Regions from separate parts of the Homo sapiens genome. Here region 2 is linked to region 1. A link means that fine-mapping ties the variant in region 1 to the expression of a gene that starts in the linked region. Tissue or cell type: whole blood. Region 1 holds a variant in brackets; the other region holds the start of a gene. All regions are shown on one strand. Distances are from middle to middle.

What was found.
Region 2: it holds the start of RPUSD4, and the variant in region 1 is fine-mapped to the expression of RPUSD4 in whole blood (INTERVAL, PIP 0.91).

Annotation. Positions count from the first base shown.
Region 1 is chr11:126,279,129-126,294,913 of GRCh38, reverse strand. TIRAP (TIR domain containing adaptor protein) reads right to left here and starts at 11,821. Exons shown (of 5, transcript NM_001318777.2): 1 at 11,761-11,821; 2 at 4,329-4,452; 3 at 3,953-4,111; 4 at 1,859-2,437; 5 at 1-1,246. The coding sequence starts at 4,019. The coding sequence ends at 1,227. It overlaps TIRAP-AS1 (TIRAP antisense RNA 1), which reads left to right. Exons shown (of 2, transcript NR_187388.1): 2 at 320-618. It also overlaps the pseudogene LOC124902838. RefSeq lists enhancers at 1,602-2,106, 9,727-9,806, 11,275-12,082 and a silencer at 11,649-12,058. The variant G/A (reference allele first, on the strand shown) is at 7,830.
Region 2 is chr11:126,206,050-126,221,834 of GRCh38, reverse strand. RPUSD4 (RNA pseudouridine synthase D4) reads left to right here and starts at 10,185. Exons shown (of 7, transcript NM_032795.3): 1 at 10,185-10,385; 2 at 10,780-10,945; 3 at 12,113-12,314. The coding sequence starts at 10,197. FAM118B (family with sequence similarity 118 member B) reads right to left here and starts at 10,053. Exons shown (of 9, transcript NM_024556.4): 1 at 10,005-10,053. It also overlaps the pseudogene RNU4-86P. RefSeq lists an enhancer at 10,171-10,400.

The DNA.
Region 1 (15,785 bases):
ATATTGGCCAGGCTAGTCTTGAACTCCTGACCTCAGGTGATCCACCTGCCTCGGCCTCCCAAAGTGCTGAGATTACAGGTGTGAGCCATGGCGCCTGGCAAAATAGTTTATAATTTAAAAAATAAATTTTCTCTTTCTAGAACTAGAGATAGAAAAAATAATAAAAATTTTTTTCAGCAAAAGAGGGGTCATGATAGGGAGAAGTGAGAGGGGGGCACAAAAGTACACATTGGAGGAAATAATGAAATTCATTTCAGTTCAACAACAAACTTACTGAGAACAGATGAATGAAACCTTGCCTGTCCTATAAGGAATACAGTCATCTGCCAGAAGAAAAATGGTGATTCTTCCCAGTCCAAAGGTGAAGATGGTGACTGTGAAAGTATCAGCTTTAGCCAGACCACTGATGAAGCTCCCAGATGTCACAGCATCCATGGGCTTGTGATCTCAGGTGAAGGCATTGAACCCTGAGCCCTGGATTCCCATCTCTTCACTTGCTCCCTCCACCACCCCACCCCCATATTCAGAATGGCCTCTAGGCTTCTAGGTTTGTGTCTTTAATGGCACCTAGGCAATAAATAAAAAATACAGTGCAGTGCTGACTGCATCTTCCCTACAGCTCTTTGAAGTGAATCGATGTCTCTGGGAAGAGGAACAGAGTAGTGTGAGTGTGAAGGACTGGATTCTTGTTGCTTTCTCCTGATGCCCATTCCAGGGTTTCCCCAGGCAACTAGGAAGACCATCCATGGTGAGGCCTGCAATCTAGGCTTCTTGCTGATCAGTCAGGTGAGTCACTTCTTTAGGAGGGATACCAGTGTACGCCAGTGCCCAGTTCCAGGGGAAGACAGAAGTGGGTGCCAGGCTTCCTGTCCAGTTAGGCAGGAGATGAGTCCTGCTGGCCATCATTGATCAGTACCACTTCCTACCACCTCCAATTTCTGGCTTCCTCATGGCCTTCTTGGGGAGTCCCCAGCTTCCTCATGGCTTTCCTAGGGGGAATCCCCAGCTTCACGGCCTTCCTGGGGGAGTCCCCAAGCTCTCCATGGTCTTCTTAGGGAGCCCACAGTAATGGAAGCCTGATGGGTGCTCTGATCCCAGGGTCACGAGCAAAGCGCTGTGACTCACTCCCTATACCTCTTGTCACATTTGTGGGAATCCGAGGCCCTGCATGGGTTTTCTGTTTCTAGCTTCACTCCAATTTCCGGGGTCCCATGATATAACAAGTGTCAACTGAGTGTCTGCAGATCTGAAAGAGACCAATCACAGCGTTGTCACACCTCCCAAACCCAGCATCTGTTTTCCCCAACAGGTCCTGCCTCTTCTATCTTTTTATCTATTACACTTCCAAACCTACTGCAATAGCATGGCCCTCCCCAGATACACTTATATGCACTTCTTTCCTATTATTTTGCATCATTTTGCCTTACTAAACCAATGTCCCTCCTGGCACCTTCCCAGCTCTTGATGGACATCTCCAGCCTGATCTCAGAGAAACCTAATGCTATTACTGTTACTACTACTAGCTATTAACTTGAGGACCTGATTTGTGCTAGGCGCTGCCTGTTATGAATACATGTGCTAGGCCATGTTCTGAGCCCTTCGTGTATATACTGTTCTCATTTCATAGCAATGGAAACCTGTTGGTCAGTGAGGAAACCAAGGCACAGAGCGGGTGAGTAACTTGGCCAAGTTACTTTTTATGGGTTAATAAGTGCAGGAGCCAGGATACAAACCCCGACAGCCTTTTCCAGAAGCTGCGCTTTGAACTACTAGGCTACAGGGCTGTCTCCTAAAAGTCAAAGTAGATCAGATACTGTAGCTGAATCCCGTTCCCCTTCTCCCTCCTGTAGTAGCTTACAACGCATGACAGCTTCTTTGACTTGACGAAAGCCACCATCAGGGCCCCTGCCATCGACGTAGTACATGAATCGGAGCTCAGGTGGGTAGGCAGCTCTGCTGAGGCCCGACAGCAGGGGGATGGTGCAGCCCTCGGCCCCTGGAGCCTCGGTCAGGGCCTGCAGCATCTGGTACTTGCACCAGGGGTCCTGAAGGAAGCCCGGCGTGATGAGCAGCACCCGGCAGTGACTACTGCTCAGTGCCTGGCACAGCTCGGACACTATAGCGCCGCCTGGGGTTGCATCCCGGAGTTGCAGGAAGCAGCGCAGGCTGGCAGTGCTGCCTTCCAAGTAGGAGACCAGGTCCTGGGCGGCCACCAGGTCTTCCTCACTGTGGCACACGCAGACGTCATAGTCTTTGCTCCAGCGACTACTGCCACTGTCACTCGCATGTGTGGGTGGCAGGCTGGGAGACGTGACTGAGCTGAGGCTTGGGGGTAGTGGGCTGTCCTGTGAGGTAGGCTGTGAAGCATCGCTGGAGGTGCTTTCTGGGGAGTTGGGCCTCTTCTTGGGCTTCTTCAGCAGGGTCTGCCTGAACCAGTCTGTGGGGGAGAAACACTGCTCAGGCCTGTGTGTTACCAGGTGCCCTCTCACTGCCCACACAGGGAGGAGCCCCACCTCACAGGGAGGACAGACAGACTGCAGCCCACCTCCCTGCACTGGGAAACATCTTATTCTCAGAGACCTGTTGCTCCACTATTTTTTTTTTTTTTTTTTGAGGCAGAGTCTCACTCTCACCCAGGCTGGAGTACAGTGGTGCGATCTTGGCTCACTGCAACTTCTGCCTCCCAGGTTCAAGCGATTCTCCTGCCTCAGCCTCCTGAGTAGCTGGGATTACAGGCATGCACCACCACACCTGGCTAATTTTTGTATTTTTAGTAGAGACGGGGTTTCACCATGTTGGTCAGGCTGGTCTTGAACTTCTGACCTCATGATCTGCCCGCCTCAGCCTCCCAAAGTGCTGGGATTACAGGCGTGAGCCACTGTGCCCAGCACTCTGCTATTTTTGTTTATCTTTTGGGACTTGCCTAAAAGTGCCCTCTAAAGGTAAAGGTTTTGGACGTGTCAGAACTCTGGAATCCTTATGTGAGAGTGTTCCACCAGCCTGGTTAAGAGAAATGGCCTTGCACTACTCCAGGCCCTTTGATATCTGGTACCCCCAGCCCAGCCCACCTTAAGCAGAACTTCCCACTAGAGCTGACTAGTCAACCACCGGGAGTCTGCAGGCAGAGCTACGTTATGCTAGCAAGGATCCATCAGTCCCAAAGCCCACTTTCAGCACTGAGGGGAGGTGGACTTAGATTAGGAAGGGCTACGTATACAGGAAGGAAGGGGTACGGAGGACTGGCATCTGTTTGGCCCCAAGAAATCCTAGATTGTCGCTAAATGGGGAAGAGGCTACTGCTCAGAGTTGCTGAGGAGCAGAGAGCTTCGTGATTCAGAACCCACACTCTGGAGTCAGGGACACGGCTTTGACTGTGGACTTGTGGACCTGTCTTAGTTGCTGAAAGTTAACTGAGATAATGCAGTGTCAGGTATGTCAGGGAGCCGGGCCTCTTCTTGGGCTTCTTCAGCAGGGTCTGCCTGAACCAGTCTGTGGGGGAGAAACACTGCTCAGGTCTGTGTTTGGAGTATGGGACTCCATAAGGAGATGAAAACAGCTTCCCCAGCCTTTGATAAGGACAGATAGTTGTGGTGGGGATTGATTCATTTTCTCTCTCTGCTTGGCTTCTCCTCTAAATGGTTCTGGAACAAAGATTTGGACGACAAGAGACAGTGTTAAGCACTCAGCACAGTGGTTTCCAGGCTAGGAAAGCTAGCTGAGCAGGCCTGGAAAACCTTTGAGCCAAAAGGATAAAGATCTGGCTGAGCTGACGCAGGCCTCCCCTCCTCACTCTCCACAAAGCATCCAGGCCCTGAATTCAGGTCAGGAGTTCCCCACGTCAGCCTTCCTGCGTCTCTCTGAGTTTGGACCAGGCAGGCCTCCCACCGCGCCCTATGGAGGCTGAGCACTACACTCAGGAACACAGCAGAGTCGCGAGTCCGGTTCCACTCACCAGCCATCTTGCCTAGAGGCTTCTTAGGCCGAGAGCCAGGAGCTGGGAGGGAGGTCGATGATGCCATAGCGTGGGGGTCAAAACTAGCCCCGTGAGACCAGGCATTGGTGAAGGGGGAGGAGGGAGGAGACCCAGTCTTGACCTCATGGAGCAGCCATCCTACAGAGGGTAGAGAGAGAGAATCACAAAGGCTGCACTTACCCTGCTCTCATTCCCCATGGATGAGCTCTGCGAAGTTCTGTTTCTCTCCTAATGCCTGACAGAGGCTTCTTCTCTAAATGGGTCTTTCATTCCTCATGAGATTAGGGCCAGACACGACTGTGATTGGAGCTGGATTCTAGATAAAGCCAAAGCTGTGTAGTGTGGTCAGACTTACAGGGTATGAGCTCAGCATGACCAGCTGAGGAACTGTTCTCTGCTCCACCTGGCCAGGAGGATATTCGGGATCTGGGGAAGGGCAGCTGGCAGGCAGCTCTTTAGAAGGACTTCCTATGTAAGGCCTGAAATGGCAGAAGAAGGACAGTTGCTATTTGGACAAATAATTATGTATCCAGATAGACAGAAGCTGAACAGTAGAGAGAGAGCACATGCAGGAAATCTTGGGAGACTTTTCCTCCAAGTCTGCCTCCCCCTGAATAACTCCATCCATAGACCCATCGCCCCTGCAGCCGTCAGCTCAGGAAGGTCATGTCAAAAAGTGGTACAGACTGCAGACTGCAGGTAGAGTGCCTGATTCTCATCTCTGGTTAACCGTGACCTTTGGCCACCTTGCTAAACTCGTTTCTCCATCCGTGAAATGGAAGTACTAGAGCCTCCTTCTCAGCATTATTGTGAAGATTAAATGAAATCATTTATGTAAAGTCCTAATGGTGCCTGGCATGTAATAAATGCTTAGAAAATGTGGGCTACTATGTATATAAAATAATCTAGATATTGGAGGGGTATATTATGTTCATGGTTTATTAAACTTGTAATGTTAACGTTTCCCAAACTGATCATTAATTCAGTGCTGTTCCAAAGTCTAGAAGATTTTTGTTTTTTAGGTTTTTTGGTGGGGAGGTTGTCAGACTGCTTCTAAATTTATATGGAAATACAAAGGCCCAAGAATCCCTTAGAAAGGCAACCTGCCATGTTCTTTTCCCACCGTAGTGACAGAGGATGTCCCTGATGGCGGACACTCTTTCAGCCTTAAGTTTCTGTGGAGCAGAGCCTGTGGGGGCTGTAGTATTCTAGTGACACTTCTCCTGTGAAAGGCTGGCAGAGCAACTGGCACAGGGCTGCTTTCTCTTTGGTGGATCTGTGAGATCAAAACAAACCTGAGAACTCATGGAAGCAAGTATTATTAGACACACTAAAATAAAAGGTTTCAAAATTTAAAGAATGTGGCCAGGCACAATGGCTCACGCCTGTAATCCTAGCATTTTGGGAGGCCAAGGCGGCGGATCACCTGAAGTCAGGAGTTCAAGCCTAGCCTGGCCAACATGGTAAAACCCCTGTCTCTACTGAAAATACAAAAATTAGCTGGGCATGGTGGCAGGCGCCTATAATCCCAGCTACTTGGGAGGCTGAGGCAGAAGAATCTCTTGAACCTGGAGGCGGAGGTTGCAGTGAGCTGAGATTATACCACTGCACTCCAGCCTGGGCAACAAGAGCGAAACTCCATCTCAATAAAAAAAATTAAAGAATGTCATTCTATGCTGCACATTAATGCTTTGTTCACTGATGCGTAGAAGACAAGGGATGCTGAGGATTTGTGATCATATATCAAAGTTCAAAAAAGAAGTAGAACTTAAACCATAGCAGCAAAGGAGGCAGAGCAAAGGGTTGGAATGGGTACAGGAACCAGAGAAGACATCTGAAAAAGCAACACAGCTAAATGTGAAGCCACCAAAACGGCACTGGACGTTGACTATGAGTATGTATATGAGTTTCTTTTCTTTCCTAATATGCTTGGGATTTCAGACAGCCTAAGTGGTAGGCTGCAGCTAGGGCCGTTCAGGATGCCTTTTTGCCCCCAGTAGTAAACATGATGTCACTTGGTTTTTGCATTTTTTAAATATTTTTTCAATTCTGTTTTAATTTTAATATTAATTATTTGGCCTTGGTGCACTTGTAAACTAGAGCATCATTTGATTTGTAAATATTCTAAAGGTTAAAAATTAACATAATATGTTAATCTACTTAATATATGTAGATTTTAAAGTTTCAGTTTCTCATTTTATGAAATGACTTGCCCTTTTGGCAACGCATGCTAATTGGGGGAAATTGCTTTTCCATTGCTTGGTTAAGAAGAAATCCAGTTGTCCAGCAGTATATGCCACCAGAAGTGCGGTGGTATAAGCCCTCATGAGAAACATGGAAACGTTTTAAAGAGAAAAATAACAGCACCTTTGACAGGATAATTGAGCAAGATGGCAGGTAAATTCCAGTAACCATACACACTGCCTACTTCCTGGAATCCAAGACGCCATGCACCTTCCCTGTTCCTTTTCAGTTCTTTTGTAGCTGGAGCTGTGGAACTGTCACATATTCAAACACGTGTTAATCTTTCCAAGACCTGGTAACTGTCATCATATCTTGAGATGTGGTTGACAAGTAGGTAAGGTAATGAACCCAAATCTCCAACTGGAAGCTCTACTCACTAGCTCTGCCTATTCTCTGATTTGCTGTGTGGTCTAATACGCAGTCGCTTTCTTTGTGCTTTGAAAAAATTCATAAAGTAGAATCATACCAAAAATACCCACTTTGTAAGAACTATGACTTGATAGAAAATTAGTAAAGGGAACGGGCTCAGTGGCTCATGCCTGTAATCCCAGCACTTTGGGAGGCCGAGGTGGGCAGATCATGTGAGCTCAGGAGTTCCAGACCAGCCTGTCAAAACCCCTTCTCTACTAAAAATACAAAATTTAGCCGGGTGTGCTGGTGCTCCCCTGTAATCCCAGCACTTTGGGAGGCCGAGGTGGGCAGATCATGTGAGCTCAGGAGTTCAAGACCAGCCTGGCCGACAGGTCGAAACCCTGTCTCTACTAAAAATACAAAAATTAGCCAGGCATGGTGTCGCACACCTGTAATCCTAGCTACTTGGGTGGCTGAGGCTGGATAATCCCTTGAACCTGGGAGGCAGAGGTTGCAGTGAGCCGAGATTGCACCACTGTGCTCCAGCCTGGGTGACAGAGCGAGACTCGATCTCAAAAAAATAAAGAAAAGAAAATTAGTAAAGAATTTCTTCAGAAAAGAAGTAGCACAATACCTTTAGTGCTTTCTAGAATGCTTTTCCAATATTATGTGCAGAAACTGATGTAAAGGAAACATTATGGAGTTTTGCTGTATAAAATCCAAAGTGGGCTGGGCACAGTGGCTCATGCCTGTAATCCCAGCACTTTGGGAGGCCGAGGTGGGCGGATCATGAGGTCAGGAATTTGAGATCAGCCTGGCCAACATGGTGAAACCCTGTCTCTACTAAAAATACAAAAATTAGCTAAGCGTGGTGGTGCGTGCCTGTAATCCCAGCTGCTCAGGAGGCTGAGGCAGGAGAATCACTTGAACCCGGGAGGTGGAGGTTGCAGTGAGCCGAGATCATGCCACTGCACTCCAGCCTGGGCAACAGAGCAAGACTCAAGTCTCAAAAATAAAAAAAAAAAAATCCAAAGTGTATTTAGTATCCAATATCAAACTGGTCTCCAATTTCTATTATATAGGGAATGTACTGGAGCCTGTGAAGGCATATAATTAGAATATGTATCTCTTAGAGTTCATATTCGATTTCTGTTAAGCAGGAATCACTATCTGGGGTAGACAGAATAGTGGCCCACAAAGAGGCCCACATCCTAATCCCCGGAACTGAGAATATGTTACCTTCCGTGGCAAAAGGGGATTC[G/A]GCAGCTGTGATTAAGAACCTTGTGATGGGGAGGGATTCCTGGATTACCCAGGTGAGTTTAATGTAACCACAAAGATCCTTTCAAGAGGGAGGCAGGAAGGTCTGAGGCAGACGAAAGAGCTGTGCCAAGGGAAGCAGGCGGCAGTGGGATGCAGGTGGCCTCTAGAAGCTGGAAAAGGCAAGTCCATGGGTTCTTTCCTGGAGCCTTCAGAAGGAGCACGGCCTTGCTGACCCATCTTAGAACGGCAGGATAATCAATGTGTGTTGTTTGAGGCCACTAAGTTTGTGGCAATTTGTTACAGCAGCAATAGGAAACTACTACACTGTGTCTGATTAGATCAGGCCAATGAATGGAGAAAGTATTGGATTTCAGTTGAGTGCTAAAACCTGGTCTGTTTAAAGGTTCAAATTGTTTGAAACAGTTTTTACATCTTTAAATAAATAAATTACCATCTATACTTCACCTGACTTTGACTTTACATTTAAAAGAATTTTGGTTTCAAAGGCTGTTTTGTTCTCAAACACTTGCTAAAACGTTTGGGTAGGATTAATTATGGTTTGCAGGACAATGTCACTTAAAGTCCTGAATATAATTCATTTATAGCTTGATAGACACAACACAGTGTTCTCAAAGAGGTTTGTAGACTATGGTGCAGACCTAGGGTGGCCCCCTGTGTTCACACCTGGGACTGTGAGAAGGACCCATGACTTTCTTTTTTTTTCAGACAGACTCATTCCATTACCCAGGCTGGAGTGCAGTGGCACAATCTCAGCTCACTGCAACCTCTGCCTCCTGGGTTCAAGTGATTCTTGTGCCTCAGCCTCCTGAGTAGCTGGGACTACAGGTGCTCGCCACCACATCCAGCTAATTTTTGTATTTTTAGTAGACACGAGGTTTTACCATGTTGACCAGGCTGGTCTGGAACTCATGACCTCAAGTGATTGGCCCACCTCAACCTCCCAAAGTGCTGGGATTACATACAGGCATGAGCCACCACACCCGACCTTTTTTTTTTTTTTTTTTTTTTTTCCAGAGAGGGTCTTGCTCTGTCACCCAGGCTGGAGTGCAGTGTTGTGATTACAGCTCACTGCAGCCTCAACCTCCAAGGCTCAAGCAGTCTTCCATCTCAACCTCTAGAGTAGCTGGAATTAAAGACGTGAGCCACCACACCTACCTAATTTATTTTTTTCATTTTTTAATTTTTCTTGGTACAGACAGGATCTTGCTTTGTTGGCCAAGCTGGTCTCCTAACTCGTGGCCTCAAGTGATCCGCCCACCTCAGCCTCCCAAAGTGCTGGGATTACAGGCATGAGCCACCATGCCCAGCTTTAATTTTACTTTTATCTGAGTCTTCTTGCTAGGGAAGATTTTTTAAAAACCAGACTCAAATAATACAACTATAAGGGGAAAAAATGATAAAATAAAAAACATTAGAATGAAGAACTTCTGTTCATCAAAAGACATAAATAGGAGAGTGAAAAGGCAATCTCCCGAGGGTTAAAATGTTTAAAAATATATATCCAGGGCTGGGCACAGTGGCTCACACCTGTAATCCCGGCACTTTGGGAGGCCGAGGCGGGCGGATAACTAGGTCAGGAGTTCAAGATCAGCCTGGCCAACATGGTGAAACCCCATCTCTACTAAAAATACAAAAATTAGCTGGGTGTGGTGGCAGGTGCCTGTAATCCCAGCTACTCGGGAGGCTAAAGCAGGAGAATCGCTTGAACCTGGGAGACGGAGGTTGCAGTGAGCTGAGACTGCGCCATTGCACTGCAGCCTGGGTGACAGAGACTCCGTCTCAAAAATCAAATAAAATATATATTATATATATATATATATACACACACACACATATATCCAATAAATGTCTTATATCACAAATATTTCAAGGACTCAATGGAACTAGTAAGACGACAGAAAAATGAGCAGAAGAATTGAGCAGGCACTTCACAAAAGGAATATTCAAATGAGCAATAGACATCAAAACAGTTCATTAGTCATCAGAGAAATGCAAACTAAAACCTCAATGCATCACTGCTGGGCACTCAGCCAAATGGCTACAGAGAAAAAGACTATCAAGTAGTGGTAAGAGTGTGCAGGGATGGGAACTCGAACACTGCCGGTGGAGAAGTGTTTGGCCATAGACTAAGATGAGCATACACACATCAGCAATTTCAGTCCTACGAATATACTCAAACAGCAGTGCTTACATATTTTTTTTTTTTTTTTTGAGACGGAGTCTCCCTCTGTCGCCCGGGCTGGAGTGCAGTGGCATAATCTCGGCTCCCTGCAACCTCTGCCTCCCACGTTCAAGCGATTCTCCTGCCTCAACCTCCCAAATAGCTGGGACTACCGACACCCGCCATCACGCCTGGCTGATTTTTGTATTTTTAGTAGAGACGGGGTTTCACCATATTGACTAGGCTGGTCTCGAACTCCTGACCTCGTAATCTGCCTGCCTCAGCCTCCCAAAGTGCTGGGATTACAGGTGTGAGCCACTGTTCCCCGCCTGCTTACAGATGTTTACCAAAAGACATTCACAAGAATGTCTGTAGCAGCAAGATACAAAATAACCCCACAGTGGAAACGACTGTCCATCAACCCGTGTCCAGTAGAATGGATAAATAAATTGTGGTCTAGCCATACAATGGAATATTATATACCAACAAGAATAAACTGCTAACTAAACATGGGTGAATATCACAAAACATACTGAATGTCAGACGTCACACACGTAAGAGTACATGAAGGGCTGGGCGCAGTGGTTCACGCCTGTAATCCCAGCACTCTGGAAGGCTGAGGCAGGCGGATCACCTGAGTTCAGGAGTTCGAGACCACCCTGGCCAATATGGCGAAACCCCGTCGCTACTGAAAATGCAACAATTAGCCGGGCGTGGTGGCAGGCGCCTGTAATCCCAGCTACTCGGGAGGAGGCAGGAGAATCGCTTGAACCCACAAGGCGGAGGCTGCAGTGAACCGAGATTGCGCCACTGCACTCCAGCCCAGAGGACAAAGGCGAAACTCCATCTCAAAAAAAAAAAAAAAAAAAAGAAGTACATGATATATGATTCCATGGATGGAAAATCCAAAACAGGCAAACCTATTTTATGGCGTTAGAAGCCAGGGATGTAGTCATGTTTTATTGATTGCTCTGAATCAGGAAATGTGCGTGTTGTGGAAAATGGTTGAGCTGTACACTTAGGATTTGTGTGCCTACGTATCAACTCTTTTAAATCTAAAAACTAACTAGATGTGGTTCCCTCTGAGTCATTCCTGATCCTGGTGTCCCCTAGGTTTGGTGTTTCAACGGGAGTTCTCCACACTTCCCCCTCTCTGTTGCACTTCTAGGGTATGCTGTGATTCTAGCGTACCTGTCTGTCCCCTGGGGACCAGAAGACTGGATCTGTCTGGTCCACCGCGGTCACCCTAGTCGTTGGCACAGTGGCTGCCCAGCCCGTGTGTAGCTGCCCATGACTGTGGTGTAATGCCTCGATAGGTCCCTGACCCTAACTAATGTTATGCACTTGCTGAATCACTGCCACAATGACAACCCGAAGAGCAGAGGAAGAGGCTGTGACCGGAGCAGAGAAGAACGTGAGGAGAAACGATATCCACAACGCACTGAGCGCCAGGCTCTTCCAGCGAGGCAAGCGAAAGGGGAGCCGCCCCGCGCGAGCTTCTTTGCGACAGAAAAGGTGACATTCTCCTCGGAGGGCCCTTTCATGCCGCTTGCGTGTTGCGGGTGCCAGAAAGGTGAAGAAGGGAAGCGGATGTGCCGCCAGCAGGGCAAGGCCGGACCAGAGGCGGCGCGCACCCCTGCGGCTCTCGGTGGGGCCGGGACTCTGGGGCCCAGGCCGGCCGCGCTCCGTCGCCCACCCCACGGAGCCCCGCCGCGCCTCCCGGTCCCCCGCGACCCCGCCCCGGGCTCACCTGCGCGCGGGCCCAGTTGCGATGAGGGCTGCGCGGACTGCGCGGGCTCCGCGGGGAAGAGCAGCGCGCAGGCCCCGCTCTCCGGAAGCGCCGCCCGCCGCACTGCCCCTCCCACGCCGCCAGGCCCAGTCCAGACCCGGGAGACTCTCGGGCACAATCCGGCTGCGGGAGACGCGGGACGGGGCAGCCCCTGTGTCCACTGCGGCCCGAGCCCCTGCCAGCCTGGCTTCTGCATGACTCCGGGCTCCCGTCCTCTCCGCTTGCGTTGGGGCGGTCCGCAGCAACTCGGAGAGGAGCCCGTGGCCAGGGTCCCCCGGCGCCCACCGTGACAACCTGAAACCTGGGTTTTGTTCTAGGCGGGGGAGAAGGAAAAAAAAACACCCTATTCCGCCCATTTAATCTTCCTAACACCCTGCAAGGGGGGTGTTCATACCTTTTTCCTTTTATACAAATGAGAAACATGAAGCTTGGAGAGATGGAACTTTTCCAAAGGTCACACACAGCGAGGGGTGTACGGGGCTGCAGTGTGGGAGGGGCAGACCCGGGCGGCAGCTGGGAAGCCAGGCCGCAGCGGCCGCCAGTTCCCGTCCCAGACACTGGTTGATGCCGAGGAGGGTGGAAACCCCGTCTTCTGCCAAAGTGCTTTCTTTGCTTCTCTAAGCGGTGATCCCACATGGGCGTTATGAACAGCGCTGCAGTATGCTGCAGAGCCGCTGCAAACAGCGTGGTGTAGGCAAGATGCTGGAAGTCCTGGGTGAAAGAGATGCCTTTGCCTCCCACTTCTGAGAGCTCTTCAGATGTTCGTGAGCGCTGTGAAGCACCTTGGGGAGAAGGGAACGGAGCATTCCCCACACTTGTTTCACTCTACAAGAAATGTGAATGTCTTCCTGAGCGTCTTGCTCCAGGCCATGCCAGTTTGGGAAACCCTATCCTAAAACTATGTGCACGAAATGCTGGAGAGTGGAGGTAGTTTAATTAGGCCATGTAAGATTCATGATCTCCCCCTCCAATTTGATTTCCTCCTTTTCTCACCAGCCCGCCAAAGCGGATGAGCTGCCCATCCTGGGAGGGCTCTGGAGTCAACTGCCTGGGTTCACAACCAGCGCTCATCGCTTACTAGTTGTGTGGCCTTGGTGAAGTCACGCAACTTTTCTAGGCTTGCTTCCTTCATCACATTATGGTATCTGGTTGCTGGTGTTCTTGCAAGGATTAGTCTACATAAAGTAGATCAGGCACTTGGCACTGCACCCAAATGCCCAGTTTGCTTTGACTCTACCTGACTCTACCAAGTACACCTCCGCCCAGGGCCCTCCTTTTCCCCAGCTCCGCTCTGCAAAACGCCCTTCTTCTAGCAAGGCCTATTTTTGGGGTTTTTTTGTTTCCTTTTTCTTTTTTTTCCCATCACACGGGTAACAACCCTTAACAAGGTTTAAGGGAGGCACACCTCACACATGTGCGTGAACACCCAGTCATCTTGCTTATGAGCTACAAAGGGATCAAGGCCCATTTTTGCAGCTTATTCAGGAAAGCTTTGCTTAACCCAGCCCTTCCCACCTCCATCCCTCAAAGGCCATAGTGCTTTTCATTGTAAAGAGCCTGTGCTCTGCTGCTTATCTCCCACTTTAGAGTAAAAATTCCCCGAGGCCAGGGATGGTTCTTCAGGCTCCAGCCAGAGCAGAAGGACACTCGAGGAACACTCAGATAAACAGGCCTTGACGGCGCCAAGTATGGGCCAAGTGTTGGGGCAGCTGAGTGTCAGGCAAGGATGAAGAAGGCTTGGTCCCAGCTCTGCACAGCTCAGGGGGGAAGACAGATGCACGGAGGCGATGGTAAGGGCTTGCCCACAGCTTGAAGTACAGCCCTGTGGGAGGACAGGAGAGTTGCTCAGTGCTTTTTTTTTTTTTTTGAGATGGAGTTTCACTCTTGTTGCCCAGGCTGGAGTGCAATGGCGCAATCTCAGCTCACTGCAACCTCCGCCTCCAGGGTTCAAGCAATTCTCCTGCCTCTGCCTCCTGAGTAGCTGGAATTACAGGCACACGCCACCATGCCCGGCTAATTTTGTATTTTTACTAGAGACAGGAGTTCTCCGTGTTGGTCAGGCTGGTCTCGAACTCCTGACCTGAGGTGATCTGCCCACCTCCGCCTCCCAAAGTGCTGGGATTACAGGCCTCAGTGCTTCTTAATAAACATAGTACTCAGTGTGTGGAAGGGAGCAGCTTCTGGGTGAGAAACACTTGAAGGCCTTTTCCCTTTTGCCCTGAGATTGGAATGTCCGTGCTGAAGGGAGCAACTGGCTGGCACCTAGGGGAACTTCACAGGGTCAACCCGGATGTCAGCTTGTCCCTCCTGCGTATCCCTGGCAAGTTCCTTCCTGTCTTTCAGCACCGCCTTCTTCCTCTTCTGGCTTCCGCCTTAGGCCTGGCCCCCTCACCCCAACCTCAGGGGCTTCTGCTGTTACCTCACTGGTAGCACATCTCCTCCCCTGCCATTAGTAAAGCCCACCTCCATCATTTCTTCCCTCCCTTTCATCCTTCTCCACAAAGGCCACTTTTTCTGTTGTCGTTTTTTGTTTTTGAGATAGGGTCTTACTCCTTCACCCAGGCTGGAGTGCAGTGGTGCCTCACAGCTCACTGCAGCCTCAACCTCCAAGGCTCAAGTGATCCTCCTGCCTCAGCCTCCCACGTATTAATAGCTGGGACTACAGGTGCATGCCACCACGCTTGGCTAATTTTTGTATTTTTTGTAGAGACAGGATTTTGCCATGTTGCCCAAGCTGGTCTCGAACTCGTAGGCTCAAGCGATCTTCCCACCTCGGCCTCCCAGAGTCCTGGGATTACAACTGTGAGCCACCGCGCCCGATCCCAAAGGCCACTTTCAAGGCGGAGTGGGCAGTTTACCAGCTGTTTCTATTCCCATTCACTTCTCCTGTGCAAGTGTCCAGACCTTAAATTCCACTGAAACTGCTCTTCTCGAGTGAGGCCACCACTGACCTACTTGGGACCGAATCCAGCAGGCACCGTGATCACTTCCTCCTTAGCTTCACGACACCACACTCTCCTGGCTTTTCTCCTGTCTCTGTGGGCACCTCTTCAGTGTCCCCTTCTCTGGTCTGTCCCTTAAATGTTGGTGGGGTCCCTCCAGCTTCCCTCCTTGGCCCCCTACTCTACCCTCTGGGGTGATGCCATCCTGTTCCATGATGTCCACATCACTATCTACAGCCCAGATCATCCCCCAAGGACCATGCCAATCAGCCCAACCCCCTATTTGAGGGATGTCCTACAGGTACCCTCATTCACCACATCCCAGACTGCACCATTCACTCTGTCCCTCACTCCGCTCCTCCCTGGTGCTCCTCATCTCTGGGAGGGGTAGAACCTCCATCCAGAAACCTGGCCATGCGACTTAACCCACTTCTTGTTGCTGGCGTCACCCTGGGATCCATCTGATTCTTGCCATGATGGTTCAGGCACTCCCTGTCCCTGCCACACAGACTGCAACCACAGCCTCCATCTGGCCTCCTTGCTGCCTGCCTTGACATCCTCATCTGCTCTCCACAGGGTCACCCAGGTGATTCTTCTAAAAGGAAAATCCGATCGTGTTGCTCCTGTTTAAAACCCCTCAGTGGCTCTAGTTCCTCTTCTCGCACTCCACGATCCAGGCAGAAACAGTCACACTGAATCCTGCTGTGGTCTGAATGTTGGTGTCCTCCCTAAAGTCCTATGTTGGAACCTGATACCCAATGTGATAGTGTTAAGAGGCGGGGCTTTTGGGGACGTGATTAAGTCATGTGGACTCTACCCTCATGAAAGGGACGAGTGTTCTTAGAAGAGGTTGAAAGAAGTTGCCTTACCCCTTCTGCCATGTGAGGATGCAGTGAGAAAGCACCATCTTCGAAGCAGAAAGCAGGCCTTTACTAGACATTGAATCTGCTGGTGCCTTGATCTTGGACTTCCCAGTGTCTAGAACTGTGAGCAATACATCTCTATTATTTATAAATTACCCAGTCTAGGATATGTTGTGATAGC
Region 2 (15,785 bases), 73 kb after region 1:
CTCTGCCTCCTGAAACACCCAACACTGAAGTCCATCTTGCCTTTTCCTGGTTTTCCTCCCTCCCCTCTAGTGGGAGGTCTTCCCTGTTTCCTAAATGCTGAGGATCCGCAGGGCTCTCCAGTCTATTCCCTTTACATACTCCCTTCCCTTCCCACCCCATTCACCCCTAGATATTAAAATACCAACTAAACGCTAAGGACTCCCAAAACGCTACCTTCAGTTCAGATCTCGGTGGTGCTTCAGGCCCAGGAGATAGCCATGTAAGTTTCAGTCAGGCAGCCCTTCAATATTGAAAGGTACTTTCAGACTGTACTTCAAACTTAAAAACCAAAAAACCGTTCAACAACCTGCTCCTTATCCTAAGTTATACAGATCTCTGAATAGTAGAAATAAGCTATGTGATAATATTTATAGGCCATTATTTCTTTCTTTCTGTTTTAAGCACCAACATATGTATTTACTGATTTTGGAAAAACTGTCATATACTTCAGAATAATGTATTTGGATCATTTCTAAACAAGAGAATATGAACCAAAGGGAACCCAGGGAAGAAAGTAAATCTGTAACCTTAAACTAGCATGATATTCTTTTCAGGATATTCTCTTTTTCCTAATAAAAATTAGCCAAAAATTAATATTGTTTTTCTTTGAGATGGAGTCTTACTCTGTCACCCAGGCTGGAGTGCAGTGGCTTGATCTCAGCTCACTGCAGCCTCTGCCTCCCGGGTTCAAGCTATTCTCCTGCCTCAGGCTCCCAAGTAGCTGGGATTACAGGCCCACGCCACCATGTTTGGCTAATTTTTGTATTTTTAGTAAAGACAGGGTTTCACTATGTTGGCCAGGCTGGTTTCAAACTCCTGGCCTCAAGCGATCCACATGCCTTGGCCTCTCAAAGTGGTGGGATTACAGGCATGAGCCACTGCGCCCGGCCTACTATTCTCTTTGATCTGAAGATGAACTGAGAGCTGAAAAGCACTGTTTAGATCTGAAATAAGAATCTGAAAGCTCTTAAAAAAAAAAAGGCATTATTTGTCACAGAAGCCATCAGAACAACTACAAAGACCAGGTTTCTTAGGAGAAATAGCTCTAAAAACATGGTTTTGCCAAGCAGGTAGCATCAGTCTTTTTTGTTTGAGACAGTCTTGCTCTGTTCCCCAGGACGGCAAGATCATGGTTCACTGCAGCATCAAACTCTGGGGCTCAAGGGATCCTCCTATCTCAGCCTCCTAAGCAGCTGGGACTACAGGTGCGCACCACCACACCTGGCTAATTTTTAAATTTTGTTGTAGAGATGGGCTCTTGCTATGTTGACCAGGCTGATCTTGAACTCCTGGCCTTGTCAAGCAATCCTCTTGCCCTGGCCTCCCAAAGTGTTGGGATTACAGGCATGGGCCACCAAGCCCAGCCAAGCATCAGTCTTAAAAAAAAAGTGGCCAGTGAAAACAATTGAGGGTATTAAAAAAAAAAGAGAGAGAGAGAAAACAGAAAGCAGGTTAGGGAGACTAAAAACATACTTTCATAAGGAAGTGAAGGAGGTCAGTGGAAGACCAAGGAGGACTCTCAGGGAGCAGCCAGAAAGCTGGGCAGCCTGGGCCCAAGGGAGGCAGGTGGAGACTTCATTCAGAAAAAGAGAGCACCTTTCCCCCAGATTTGAAAGTAACAGATCACTGCAGGAAATATGCAGAAAGAGCAAAATGAAGCCCCCCTTCCTCCAACGTGGAGCTAACCACTGCTGACATTCGGATTTATGTGGAGAAAAGCAGTTTTTAAGAGGAACTCTCGGAATAAGTCTGAGTATCTTGGGTTCATGTTCATATCAATTCTAAAAACTTCATTCATTAGAGTTTGCCCCTGCTTTCACACCATAAATCTCCATACATATAAGCCCCCCCTTTAAAAAAAATTCTTCCTTCAATGTCTTATTAAAATTAACTTAAAAAAAAAACTCAAGCAGCTCGAGCTGCTTTTTTTTTTTTTTTAAGTTAATTTTAATAAGTACAGTAGTGCATGTTTTCTGCAGTAGAAGAAAGAAAGAAGCAGTCTATTTCTAGTGGCTGGGGGTAGGGAGGTGCTGGGGAAGAGCAGGAACCTAGGAAGAGTCAGCAGAGGGTAGCCACGCCCCAGCCCCATGGACGAGACTCCTGAGGAATCCATAAAACTGCGAAGTACTAAGTTCTGGCAACAGATCTCAAACCTGCTCCTTAGCAAGAGAGCTAAAAAGAGAGTGTTTCTTATGTACTCTGTTAATTTGACTCTTAAGGCATATAAACAATAGGGAGACCCTGTCTCTACAAAAATAAAAAACTTAGCCAGATGTGGTGGCATATGCCTATGGTCCCAGCTACTTGGGAGGCTGAGGTGGGAGGATTGCTTGAACCCAGGAGGTCGAGGCTGCAGTGAGTCATGATCATGCCCACTCCAGTCTGGGCAACAGAGAGAGACTCTCAAAAAAAAAAAAAAAAAAAAAAAAAAAAAAAAAAAAAAAAGATAAACAAGAGCTGAAGGATAAGCTTCCAAAATAAACGAGGAAAACAAGAAATCTGTGCTTTTCCTTATGTGATATTCCTGTGCTGCATTCCATGACACTAAGAATATAAAACATGATAACTTCTGTCCTTACGTGTTTACTTCTTAATCTTTTTCAAAGTACGCTATTAAAATGGCAACAGAGGAGTTTTTCTTTTTTCAAGGTATAAAACCAAGAATGTGAGGTGCAGGAGATAAGCATTCAATTTTTCAATGAATTTTTGGAGATGGAAAGCAAGCTTTAAATGCAGATCTGAAAATACGGATTGGCATAAAGTCTATTTAACTAATGCGCAAATTCTCTTCCTCACCTCCTATTTTCATCTATTTTCTCCACCCCCAAATCCAGAGGTTTAAAGAAAAATGAACCGAAATCTGAAATGGGTCTGGAGTAAAATACATCAGCAGGAGCAATGAAGAACTGAAAATACAGATTATGTCAAAAGATGCATACTAAAAGGTTCTCCAAGCCTCCATCCTTGTCCCAGCAACCAATGCACTGTCAGCTAAAGAAATATTAGCAAACATATACATTTGTACAAACATACACACAAAATCCATATATACCAGCCACCCTATAGTAATGGCCACCACCCAACAAGACCCACGCTGGGAACTTAAAATAACAAAAAACAAAACAGAAATGAACAGTCAGAATCATGAGACATTCAAAGAAATCCCACAATAAAATAATTCATTTATTCCTTAAGTTATTAAGCATCTATTCATCGCCAGGCACTGTTTCAGAGGCTGGAATTATAGAGGTAAACAAAAAAAAACCCAAAATCCCTGCCCTCATAGAATGTTTATTTTAGTGGTGAGGGAAACAAGTAAATAAATATGTGGGATGCTAGATGGTGGGAAATGCTTCTGGAGAGAAACAAAGCAGGGAAGTGAGATGGGGGTCTGCACTTCTCAATCCAGTGCTCTCTTCACTGAGGTGACATTTAAGGAAAGACTTGTGGATTCATCCAAAGTGAGGTGTGGGAGCAAGTCGCTGGATATCTGAGGGAAGACACATCCAGACAGAGGCACAGGTGCAAAGGCCCACATCACCTGAAGGAAGTGGAGCCTGTGCAGAGAGGAAGAAAACTCAAATACTCCAGCGGGCCCTCTGAGCCCACCATATCCACATAACAAGAATGGATATTACAAAAAGGTATCAAAGAAAAATTAAAGATTGAGCAAAAAATCACAGAAATAGTACAAGAAAACATCCCGGAACTAGAGGACGTGAATTTCCAGAATCAAAACCGTCTGTGAGAAGCCAGCACAACAGCTGAGTAAAAGACCCATACCCTGGTGTTAATACACATCATAAAACTGCAGAACACCAGAGATAGAGAATATCCTCAAAGCTTCCAGAAGGGGAGAAAACAAACAAAATACGGTCACGTAAGAAGGATTTAAATCACCACATCTCTAGAGCAATTACAGATGCCTTCAACATTCTGAGAGAACCTTATTTCCAATCTAGAATTATATAACTGCCAAACTATCAAACAAGTGTGTGGGCAAAACCAGGTCATTCAAATACTTCTTAGAAATAACTGAAGTATATGCTTTTAAAAAATAAAGACATAAGCCCAGAAAGAGGAAGATACGGTTCCTGCACAGGAAAGGGCAGGTCCAGGAGGACCCCAGGCAGCAGTTCTTGAGAGCAACAGTAAAGGCAGGAGGAGGGGGCAGGGCTCCAATAAACAGGTGATACATTTGAGCTCACAGAAAATGTTACTGATAAGAATGTGACAAATACATTGGAGCATGTGGGAAAAAAATTAACAGTAGGTACATGAAAAACACAGGTGAAGGCCAACCTACACACCAGGAGGAACACACTGTAATAGATCATCCAGCTCAACAGTGAACAGTATTTGACAGAGGTGTAAGTACATAAAAGCTACCTGTTTTAGCAAAAAATTACAATAGAACTATATTAGGGGATAGAGGGCATGGAAAAATAGGAAAGTGGTGGGATGCAAGAGCTAAATACAAATCTATCACAACAAGAAATCAACAGGCCAAACATGAGGGGAAAACCAAGAAAGAATAACAAACCAACTATTTAGCAACAAGAAGATACAGCAGACTCTCAAAAAAAGTCTTTTTGTTCAACATCGTTTTTTCATAACATTGATGAGAGAATAAGTGATTCCTGGCTGAGGCTACCCGTTTGTGTGGAGTTGGCATGCTCCCCATGTCTGTGTGGGTTTTCTCCAGGTATTCTGCTTTCCTCCCACGTCTCAAAGATGTGCCTGCTAGGTTAGCTGGTGTGTCTAGATGGTCCCTGTGTTTGTGTGTGTGTGCATGCACACCCTATGGCATAGACAGCGTCCTGTCCAGGGCTGGCGCCTGCCTTGTGCCCTGAGCTGCCAGCATAGGCTCCAGCCACCTGTGAGCCTAAGCTGGAAAATAAATGAATGAATACAAATTACCAGCAAATAAAAATCTGCAAAGTCTATGGTAATCATCCAAATGCACAACAATAAATGATGTGGTACAATAGCTCTCAGTGAGCCTGCCCTATTGGTGATTGATTGCTTTGGAAATGAGTATGGTGGTAGGAAATGCTTCTGACAATTTTCACTTTGCACACATTTATTCCTTGATTTAACCCACCACCACTATGACTGCAGTAACTCACTGACTCACCAAAAAGTGGGTGAAAATCTTACTTGTTTCAGTGTTTCATATTAGAAATGTTTGGGTCTTTATTTAGAAATTGGGTATGTTTTTGTGACCAGAAAAACGCCATAGAAACCATATGGTAAAACTGGTTTTGTTATATCATGTTTCAAGAATACTGATGGTGTTGACCACTTACTGTAAAGACAGAGGAAAAGAGGAAAACAACTGAGTGGTTGCCTCTAAAGAATGGGACTTTGAGGTAGGGAGGGCAGAGAAACGGTTTTTGTTTTGTTGGGTTTTTTTTTGGTGACAGAGTCTCGCTCTGTCACCTAGGCTGGAGTGCAATGGTGCGACCTCGACTCACCGCAACCTCCATCTCTCCAGTTCCAGCGATTCTCCTACCTCAGCCTCCCAAGTAGCTGGGATTACAGGCACACACCACCATGCTCAGCTAATTTTAGTATTTTTAGTAGAGATTGGGTTTCACCATGTTGGCCAGGCTGGTCTTGAACTCCTGACCTCAGGCAATCCACCTGCCTCAGCCTCCCAAAGTGCTGGGATTACAGGTATGAGCCACTGGACCTGGCCTGAGAAACTGTTTTTTAATTCCAAATCTTTTATTACTATTTGACTTTTAAACTGTATTACACAAATTACTTTTTCTTTTTTGAGATGGGTCTGTCTCTGTCACCCAGGCTGGAGTGCAGTACTGCAATCATGGTTCACTGCAGCTGCAGCCTTGAATTCCCGGGCTCAAATGATCCTCCCACCTCAGCCTCAAGGGTTAGTTAGGACCATAGGTGCGTCACCATGCCCAGCTAATTTTGTGATTTTCTGTAGAGACGAGGTCTTGCTATGTTGCCCAGGCGATCTCAAACTCCTAGGCTCAAAAGATCCTCCCCGCTAGGCCTCCCAAAGTGCTGGGATTAAGGTGTGAGCCATGCACCCCACCCCCATTTAGGACATTTTTTTTTTTTTTTTTTTTGAGACGGAGTCTCATACTTTCACCCAGGCTGGAATGCAGTGGCGCGATCTTGGCTCACTGCAAGCTCTGCCTCCTGGGTTCACGCCACTCTCCTGCCTCAGCCTCCCGAGTAGCTGGGACTACAGGTGCCTGCCACCACGCCCAGCTAATTTTTGTATTTTTAGTAGAGACAGGGTTTCACCGTGTTAGCCAGGATGCTCTCCATCTCCTGATCTCGTGATCCGCCCACCTCGGCCTCCCAAAGTGCTAGGGTTACAGGCGTAAGCCACCGCGCCTGGCCAGAAATCTTAAAAGTATATTCCAACACCACTCAATGAAGTAACCTCCAAACATAAACATTAGCTCAGTGGCAAAAAGTTAAATTCTGGGGACAAGAGCAGAATCCAGTTTCTTAGTATCAATGCTAAATGTATTCAAGATAAATCTGAAATAAATCCCACTAATTCGGGCTGAAAGAGAAGTATTTCAGTATCAGTGGAAAATCTTCATAGACTAGAAACAGAGTTGCAAAAATCTTTCAAATGACAAAAAACTGAAGCCCAAATTATTTGTTCAAGTACGCAGCGGCTGAACTGGAACTAGTCCCACATCTCCTGGCTCCCAATGACTGTACTTTCCAGGGCACCTCCCAAGAGTTCCTGCTAATTGCCTCCTTTAATCTCTCTAAAACCATAAAACAATGTCCAAGTACTTCCTGCTCTTCAAGGAAATGGAATCGCTGGTTAATCTGCAACTAGCAAATCACAGTTTGAGGAGGCGTAACTTAACTTTATACCACTAATTAACCTTAAATTTGTGATAAACGCAAGTTCCTTTATTAGTTAGTCCTTGTTTGTTTATATTTGCGAAATACTAATGCAGCCTTTTTGTTCCTGAATAGACTAGGAAATATCTTTAAAAAGAAACTATCAAGTTCTTCTTTATATGGTTACTTTAGGGGCACATATTATGATATATCAAAATCAATGTAAATAAGTCATGTTTGAACAGAGCCGTAGTCTGCAAGAATGAAGAAATCACTAATAGAATTTCCTTCCTTGTTCTAAGAAAACATTTAGACAAGAGGAGTTCCCAACAAATGGACTGTGACATTGGCGCAGAAGTGGAAAAGTGAACTGCCTAAAAAAGGACCAGCTGAATGAGGAACAGGGAGGAGGCAATATAGAGGTAAAAAAAAAAAAACAAAAAAAAAACAAAAAAAAAAAACAGAAACAAAAGAGTTTTTTGCAGTGGCAGTATTGCAGCCAATGAGGTTTATCTGAGGGGTGATTATTGCTCTTTGAAAATTGGAAAAAAAAAAAAAAAAAAGACATGACATTTGCATAAATTCTTTTTTTTTTTTTTGAGATGGAGTCTTGCTGTGTTGCCCAGACTGGAGTGCAGTGATGCGATCTCGGCTCACTGCAAGCTCCGCCTCCCGGGTTCACGCCATTCTCCCGCCTCAGCCTCCCGAGTAGCTGGGATTACAGGCGCCTGCCACCGCGCCTGGCTAATTTTTTTTTTGTATTTTTAGTAGAGACGGGGGTTTCACCATGTTAGCCAGGATGGTCTCGATCTCCTGACCTCGTGATCTGCCCGCCTCAGCCTCCCAAAGTGCTGGGATTACAGGCGTGGGCCACCGCGCCCGGCCACATAAATTCTTTATACTGAGAACAACTCTACTTTAAATCACCAAGTGCCTAGACTCACCGGAGAAACATTAAGGATGTCATAACTTATGTACCCATACTGGCTAAAGCTGCACTGTCATACCAAACAAAAACTTTGAATTCTTTAAATTTCTCTACAAAGTTTCAACAAGACAAACCTAAAAGTTCCTTCTCCAGAAAAAAGGGACCAATATTTTTATTCTTAAGTCACTAAGTGTGTGCTTTGAGTTAACCTGAAACCCTAGAGCATAAGCTCTGTGTCACTAGCAATGACATTTGAGTTGGTTCTTCATTTTGTTTCCCGCCACAGAAGGCCAACTCTGCAAGAACAGGTGTAGTTTCTTGAATGCCATAAGGTTAGGGTAGAAACAGCCTCTCCCATCCCCGACACAAAACCATAAAAGTCCTGTACCCAAAACAAGTTTTTAATTAATGTAATGATATGAATTTAAGTCCCGATGTCAAAACTTCAGGGTCCTTGGAAAATTGAGCTTCAAGTATCTAAGTAATATGTGATGTTCAAGTGAAATTAGAACCTAGGTCTGGAGCATGGAAGGTAATAATTCTTTTAGGGTGGAATTTCTCAACTTTTATAGACCTCTGTCTTACTGGTAAATTTGCAGGGGGTGGGTGGGGAACAGGAGAAACAGATGTTTCCCAATCTCCCTTGGAAATCTTTGCATTTGTATCTGGATCTGCATTTACACCTGCCTTATAAGAGAAACGTACACAAGCCTTGCTTCTTTCCCACTTTACAAATACATCTTCCTCTACCTTCATTCTTCAGGCCAAACATTGACAGAAATAAGACAATTCAAAATGTTCAGACACACCTAGCATACATTTATGATGCACTTCAGCCATCTAACAGATATCGAGTTTACTATGTGCCAGGTGAGTGGATTAAAAAAAAAAATTCTTCCAGGGACTCACAGATCAACAGCAGCTGCCAAGAGTACGCCTTGACCTGCATAACTCAATTAATTCAAACTCAAAGGAGTTACAGTGTAGGGGGAAAAGACCAGACCTCATCACTGACCACCTAGATTGTAACTAGTTTTCCTACTATCAAACCCTTTCCTTCCCCACTATCAAACCCTTTCCTTCCCCATCTGTCCTGCATTCAACTGCCAGATTCATTTCCAGAATTCCACTTTCAAGGAGTCTCTCTGCCCTACTCGAAAAGCTTCAAAGACTCCTCACTACGTATCACCTCTAGTTCAAACTCTTCAACTTGAGTCTTCTATGAGTAGCTCCACCTGATCAACTTTGTTTCTTGTTGGTACGGCTCCCTTCTGCCAAACCCTTTAGGAGGTGTAGAACCCAAATCTAATTCAACTACCTATTCTCTAATAACTCCTCAGGCAGCCTTCATTCCAAGCAGTCTTAAAAAATTGTTCCTTCTATCGTCACAGATCCATTAGTTTTCAGGACATTCTTTCTGAACTCAGCATAAGCTTTCCTCTTAACAAATGGCAGGTATATCCCAAGTTATTTTTAACACTACCATCCCAAACAGATGTTTATCTTCCCAGCCACCCCTGAGTGAAATCAGAGGGAGTCGCCTGCAGTTCGGGCAAGGGAATCCCAACATCGCATCTCGTGAGAGGAGGTATGGTGTGGTTGCAAACTATGGAGAGGAAAAATAAAGGAAACAGGAAAAGTGAAGGTCTGTGCTCCGTTCTTTCAGCTTTTTCTTTAGGAGGAGTAGGGAAGGTAGGGAGGAGACCCCCAAGAAATGAATTCTTGAGGAAGGGCAGAAAAAACACTCACAGTGCTTCCTAAGTAGGAAATAGGTGCTGGGGGCCCTGGATAAGGGAAGGGGCCGTCATCCTTAGGAGAAGGGTACAGGTTACAACGCGAAACAAAGAGGCTGGGAGTTGGAAGATGAAGGGTGGAGAGACTACAGAGATCCGGGCATCCGATCAAGAGGGTCCCCGACGCGTCCCGCAGGGGACTGGCGGATCACCGGAGATTCAGTGGCTAAGAGGGACGGCGTCGGTGCCTAGGAGGGCTCTGGGGCGAGCGTTTATGGGACATCGCTCCTAAGGGGGCGCGGGGGCGGGGAGGAGTTTTTGAGTGGGATCGTGTACCAAAAGGAGAAACGTTTCTCAGACCAGTGCTCTTCTTGAACGGAAATCCCGGGGACGCAGAAAACGTTAAACCGTTGAGGCACCGGCATTTCCCAGCCCCAGCCCGGCTTCCCTACACACTCACCGAGTCTCCTCCAAACGCCACTGCTCCAGCTGCAGCTACCGGCCGGCGCAGCCGCACTGAGCGCGCACCGTCCCCACGTGACTCGCCCAGGCCCCACCCCGCACCACGTGACCTGCAGGGCCCACCCACTCCCGCCTCATTGTAGTCGCCCTTCTCCACGTGGTCTTGGCTCGCCCCGCCCTTCCTTGTAAGATGGCGGCGCCCAGGTGGAGCGCGTCGGGCCCCTGGATCCGGGGAAACGGCCAAGGTTGCGGGAGTCTCTTCACTCTCGTCTCAAAGCCATTTTGTGCCGCTGCCGCTGCCTCTACGGCCATAAATGCCCAGAGATTAGCGGAGAAGCTCCGAGCCCAGAAACGGGAACAAGACACAAAGAAGGAGCCGGTGAGTCCAAAGGGACCAGAACTCCCTAGAGGCAGTGCGCTCATTGGTTTCCCAGACGGGGAGTAGGTAGGAGGGTCCTCTGAGTGAAAGCGTGTGAGTCAATAGCCCGGACGCAAGGTGGGAGAATGGGGAGAAGGCGGAGGGGAGGGGTCAGTAAGGGTACGGTGTTTTCCCGTGAGCTGGATCTTTGGCTACTGTCAGGCTCAGTCCTAACCACTGCGTCGGTACGCAGGTTAGACAGATGGGTATCTCTGCTCTCAAATTAGTCGAAGGCGGCGCGGGTCTGATGCAAAGATAGTCATTCCCTACTCAGATTCTCACCCAGACCTTTATGGAAGGTCTTCTCCACGGCTTCCGCACCAGGCATTCCCCACGGCTCCTTCTTTCTCCCTAGGTGTCCACAAACGCTGTTCAGCGGAGAGTGCAAGAAATAGTGCGGTTCACACGGCAGCTGCAGCGAGTCCACCCCAACGTGCTTGCTAAGGCACTGACCCGAGGAATTCTCCACCAGGACAAGAACCTTGTGGTCATCAATAAGCCCTACGGTCTCCCTGTGCATGGTAAGGACCACGCGGGAAAGGTGGAGGAACCTGCAGCTGCTTTCTGCTACAACCGAGGAAAACTGAGACGTTACTTGTGGTGCACTCTAAAGCCTTGCATTCAAATTAATTAAACTTTTGTAAACTACCGTCCAATATAAGGAACCACCGAGAACACAGAAATAAATAAATAAGACAGTCCTCCCTTTCTAAACATCTGACAGTAAGCAATTCGTAGAATACGCTGTGTGCAGACTACAGGGATCGCTGTAGAGATATACAAAGGCTGTGTGGTTCTAGACTAAAGGTTATCTTCCATCAGAACTGGGAATGAGAAAATGATACATAAGAAAAAAGGGGGTGTGTGTGTGTGTGTGTGTGTGTGTGTGTATGTATGTTGGAGTATATGTAACATACAACCCCAGAGTGACTGGAATTTAGTGGACCTTCAAATGTCTTTCAACAGATGTTGCATGTAGTTGTCAGGGACAGCTGAAGTGAATCAGGAAAGATTGATTTAAAAAATGCATTTGTGAAAGAGGGAAAAGGCCCATTTTAGCTAGAAGAAGGTAATGCTTTTTGGGGAGATACGGAGATAGTTGTTCACAAAGACAAGGAATTAAATCACATCACCAAGTGTTTGTATAATTTTTTTCTCTCTTTATTTTCGCAACAGTTTTTTGCCTTTCCATTCCCCAATGAAGTTGTTTTCCAGATATTTACATTTTATAACGAGAAAGCAAAGTTGGAAAGAGAAGTAATGTGTCCAAGGTCAAAAAAATGGCTAGTAAGAAGAGTAGAGTAGAACCCCAGGAATGTCTAACCCCGAAGTCTATCCTCCTAATCACTCTTATTTAATGCTTCTCGAAGGCCTCATGGTTTTTCAAAGTATGTCTGAGAGGAAGCCACATGCTCTAGAATGGTGTTTCTCAAACTTTAATATGCTTCTGAATCACTTGGGCAGCTTGTAAAATGCAGATTCTGACTGAGTAGTCTAGGTTGAGAGCCTGAGATTCACTTCTAATAAGCTCCCTAGACATGCCATTGTTGCTAGTCTCTGGACCACACTTCAGTAGTAAGGCTCTAGAAAATATTGACAGTTTATCCATTAAGGGCTTTTCTCCCAAGGAGAGTTCTTTGGCGAGATCTTTTCCTGGCCGCTCAAACCTTTGGCTTTTTCCTTCTTAGGTGGCCCTGGGGTCCAGCTCTGCATCACTGATGTACTACCTATCCTGGCAAAGATGCTTCATGGCCACAAGGCAGAGCCCTTGCATCTGTGCCACCGGCTGGACAAGGAAACCACAGGTGTAATGGTGTTGGCTTGGGACAAGGACATGGCACATCAAGTCCAAGAGTTGTTTAGAACCCGTCAGGTGGTGAAGAAGTACTGGTATGAGGCCTGCTGATGGCAGTAGAGGTGGTATAAGTGGAGGCATTTCTTTCACCTATTTATTCATTAAAAACAGAAACTCCCATTAATAGAAGGCACTGCACTATGACCTGCGAGATTGTAAAAAATATGTGAAACAGCTTTGGTGCTTAGAATATTAAGTCTGATAGAACAGTGGTTCTTAATTCTGGTATACATCAAAATTATCAAAAATTAATTATACAAGCATGGGGTGGACATGGTGGCTCACGCCTGTAATCACAGCACTTTGAGAGGCAGAGGTGGGAGGATCACTTTAGGCCAAGAGTCGGAGAACAGCCTGGGCAACATAGTGACACCTTTTCTCTATAAAAAGTAAGAAGTTAGTCCGGTATAGTGGCACATACCTGTAGTCCCAGCTACTTGGGAGGCCAGGGTGGGAGGATCACTTGAGCCCAGGAGTTTGAGGTTACAGTGAGCTATGATCACACCACTGCACTCCAGCCTGGGTGACAGAGTGAGATCCTGTCTCTAAAGAAAAAAAAATTAATTAATTATACAAGTAATATATGATTTTATTCCCATGCTAAAAATAGTCAAACAACAAAGATCATGTGAAAAACTCCTGGAGAATCCACCCATTCTGCCATTCTAGTGTTTTCTCTTGAGGTAACAACCCATGTAATCAGTTTGGTTTTTTTTCCTCTGGTTCTTACTCAACGCATTTACATATATGTCTAGTGTATACAGTATACGCGTGTGCGGCGTACGCAGTATACGCGTGTCCGGCATACGCAGAATATGCGTGTCTGGTGTACGCAGTATATGCGTGTCTGGTGTATGCAGTATATGCATGTGTACATATGTATGTACACATATATATCTATATATATATCACATTGTACAATTTACATTATACTTTTTTCCTCTGCTCACCTCTATGTCTTGGGGATCATCCTGTGTTAGCACATAGAGGTTTACCTCAGTGTTTTTCATAGAAAAAAGATGCGTGAGCAAAAAAGAAACCCTCTATTCCCCATCTGTGCAGTTGCCTTCCCCAGCGTCAATCGCTGTGACTGGTGTCTTCTGTAAACTTCCAGAGTTATCGAGCATATATAAGCATATTACTGTATGCTAGTGTATTTCACACAGAGTTTTGTACCCTACAGTTTTCACTTGGATCATATATCTTAGAGCATTTTGTGTCATACGTTTAGAGCTGTCTCCTTTTTAATTGCTCTGTGAAATACCGCTGTATGGATGGATATTTAGGTAATTTCTCATTTTTTAGAGCCTATTGCAAAGAATATGTGAATGTATTTTTAAGATAAATTTCTAAAAATTGAATCGCTGGGCTGAATGGTTTGTATATTTAAATTTTAATAGTACTCACATTGCTCTCCACAAAGGTTTTTTATCAGTTTACATTCCCACCAGCAGTGGTGAGTACCCACCTCCCCTTATCAGCCAAAGCATTTTTAAAGGGTTTGCCACTGTGATAAGTTAAAAAAAAAAAAGATATTTTCTATTTCCTTGTATAACAGTGATATTGGCTATCAATTTACATGTTTTTTACATGTTTATTGGCTATTTGAGTTTCCCTTTTGGGAACAGACTGATTATTTCTTTTGCCTATTTTTCTACAGGGTTGTTTATTATTATTATTTTTTTTTATTTAAGACCGTGCCTGGCCTTTTTTTTTTGAGATGGAGTCTTGCTGTGTCACCCAGGCTGGAGGGCAGTGGCACAATCTTGGCTCACTGCAACCTCCTCCCTGGTTCAAGTGGTTCTCATGTTTCAGCTAGCTGGAATTACAGGCACATGCCACCATGCCCAGCTAATTTTTGTATTTTTAGTAGAGATGGGGTTTCAGCCTGTTGGCCAGGCTGGTCTTGAACCCCTGACCTAAAGTGATCTGTCCATCAAAGTGCTAGGATTACAGCGCTTACAGCTCACAGGCGTGAGCCACTGTGTCTGGCCCAGGTTGTTTATTCTTTTCTATTTGATTTGTAAGTATTCATTTTATATTTTGAATGTTAGTCCTTTTTAGATTACAGATTTTGCAGATACTTTGTGAATCTGAGGAGCCCTTTAAAAATATGTATGATTGAGACTTACCCACAGAAGTTCTCATTCGTAAGTGTGGTGGTTGTGGGGATTGGCATCTGTATTTTAAAATTTGATATACAATCAAATTTAAGAACTATGATAAGATTATGGAGAATGGAGGAATTTAGGACAGTAGCTAAGACCTCAAAAAGATGTGTGTTCAACTCTCAACTGTGTCATTTAACAGCTGTGGGGCCTTGGGCAGGTTATTAAATGTCCATAAGCTTTGTTTTCTTCATCTGAAAAATGGAAACAGTAGGATTTATGAGATAGTTAAATAAGATTGATTCTTGTGAAATGTTTAACACAGTACCTAGTTCATAGGAAAAGTTAAAAAATAAAAAATAGAGACTTATTTTTCTATTCAAGCAATCAAAATATTAAGACTATAAAATACATGTTATGTTATTTGTGAAAAATGTCCATTAAGGTTCAAAATTGGTAACCATTCTCGGTATCAGGTTCATGGAGGAATTGAAATCAATCAGTTGGGTCTTGCTGATGGAACATTCTTGAGTTGTAGTGTCATATCATTAGGAAGGACATTCTTGTCACAGAAGATCTACAAAATCTGTAAAATACGATAAAATGTACCAGATAGTAGCTGAAACTGAAGTGGAGTGTCTGCGTTGTGAAATAGTGTGTGTGAGTAGGATTTTGACCCCGTGGTTAGTGATTATACAACCGACCACCAGGTACCCAGATGGACTTTTCCATCATTGACCTGAAAGAGGCATAAATTTACAGACAGATTAAACAGTCTTCTACCTGTCTGTGAGGTCATGAGGTCATGGGAGGGAGAACACCAACAGAAGTGATTTGGAATGAGTTATTGAGTTGTGGTTGTGGTACCTATGACTTCTTTCTTTCTTTTTTTAGACGGAGTCTTGCTGTGTCTCCCAGGCTGGAGTGCAGTGGCATAATCTTGGCCCACTGCAACCTCCACCTCCTGGATTCAAGCGATTCTCATGCCTCAGCCTCCCAAGTAGCTGGAATTACAGGCACGCGCCACCACGCCTGGCTGATTTTTTTTTTGTATTTTTAGTAGAGATGGGGTTTCACCATGTTGGCCAGGCTGGTCTTGAACTCCTGACCTGAAGTGATCCACCCGCCTTGGCCTCCCAAAGTATTGGGATTACATGTGTGAGCCACCACGCCTGTCCCCTGTGACTTCTTCGGGTACAGTTCCCTCCTGTTTTACCTATGTGGCAAATGAGCCAGGAACGGTTCTCTGAATGTTTTATTAGGTTCATTCATCCAATTATTCATTTGTTCATTTACCATGCAGTCAGAATCTACAATCTTTTATTATTTGAAAAAAAATACAAAACTATATTACCATAATTTTATTTTAACTGTACATATCCATTTTTAAAGACTGGA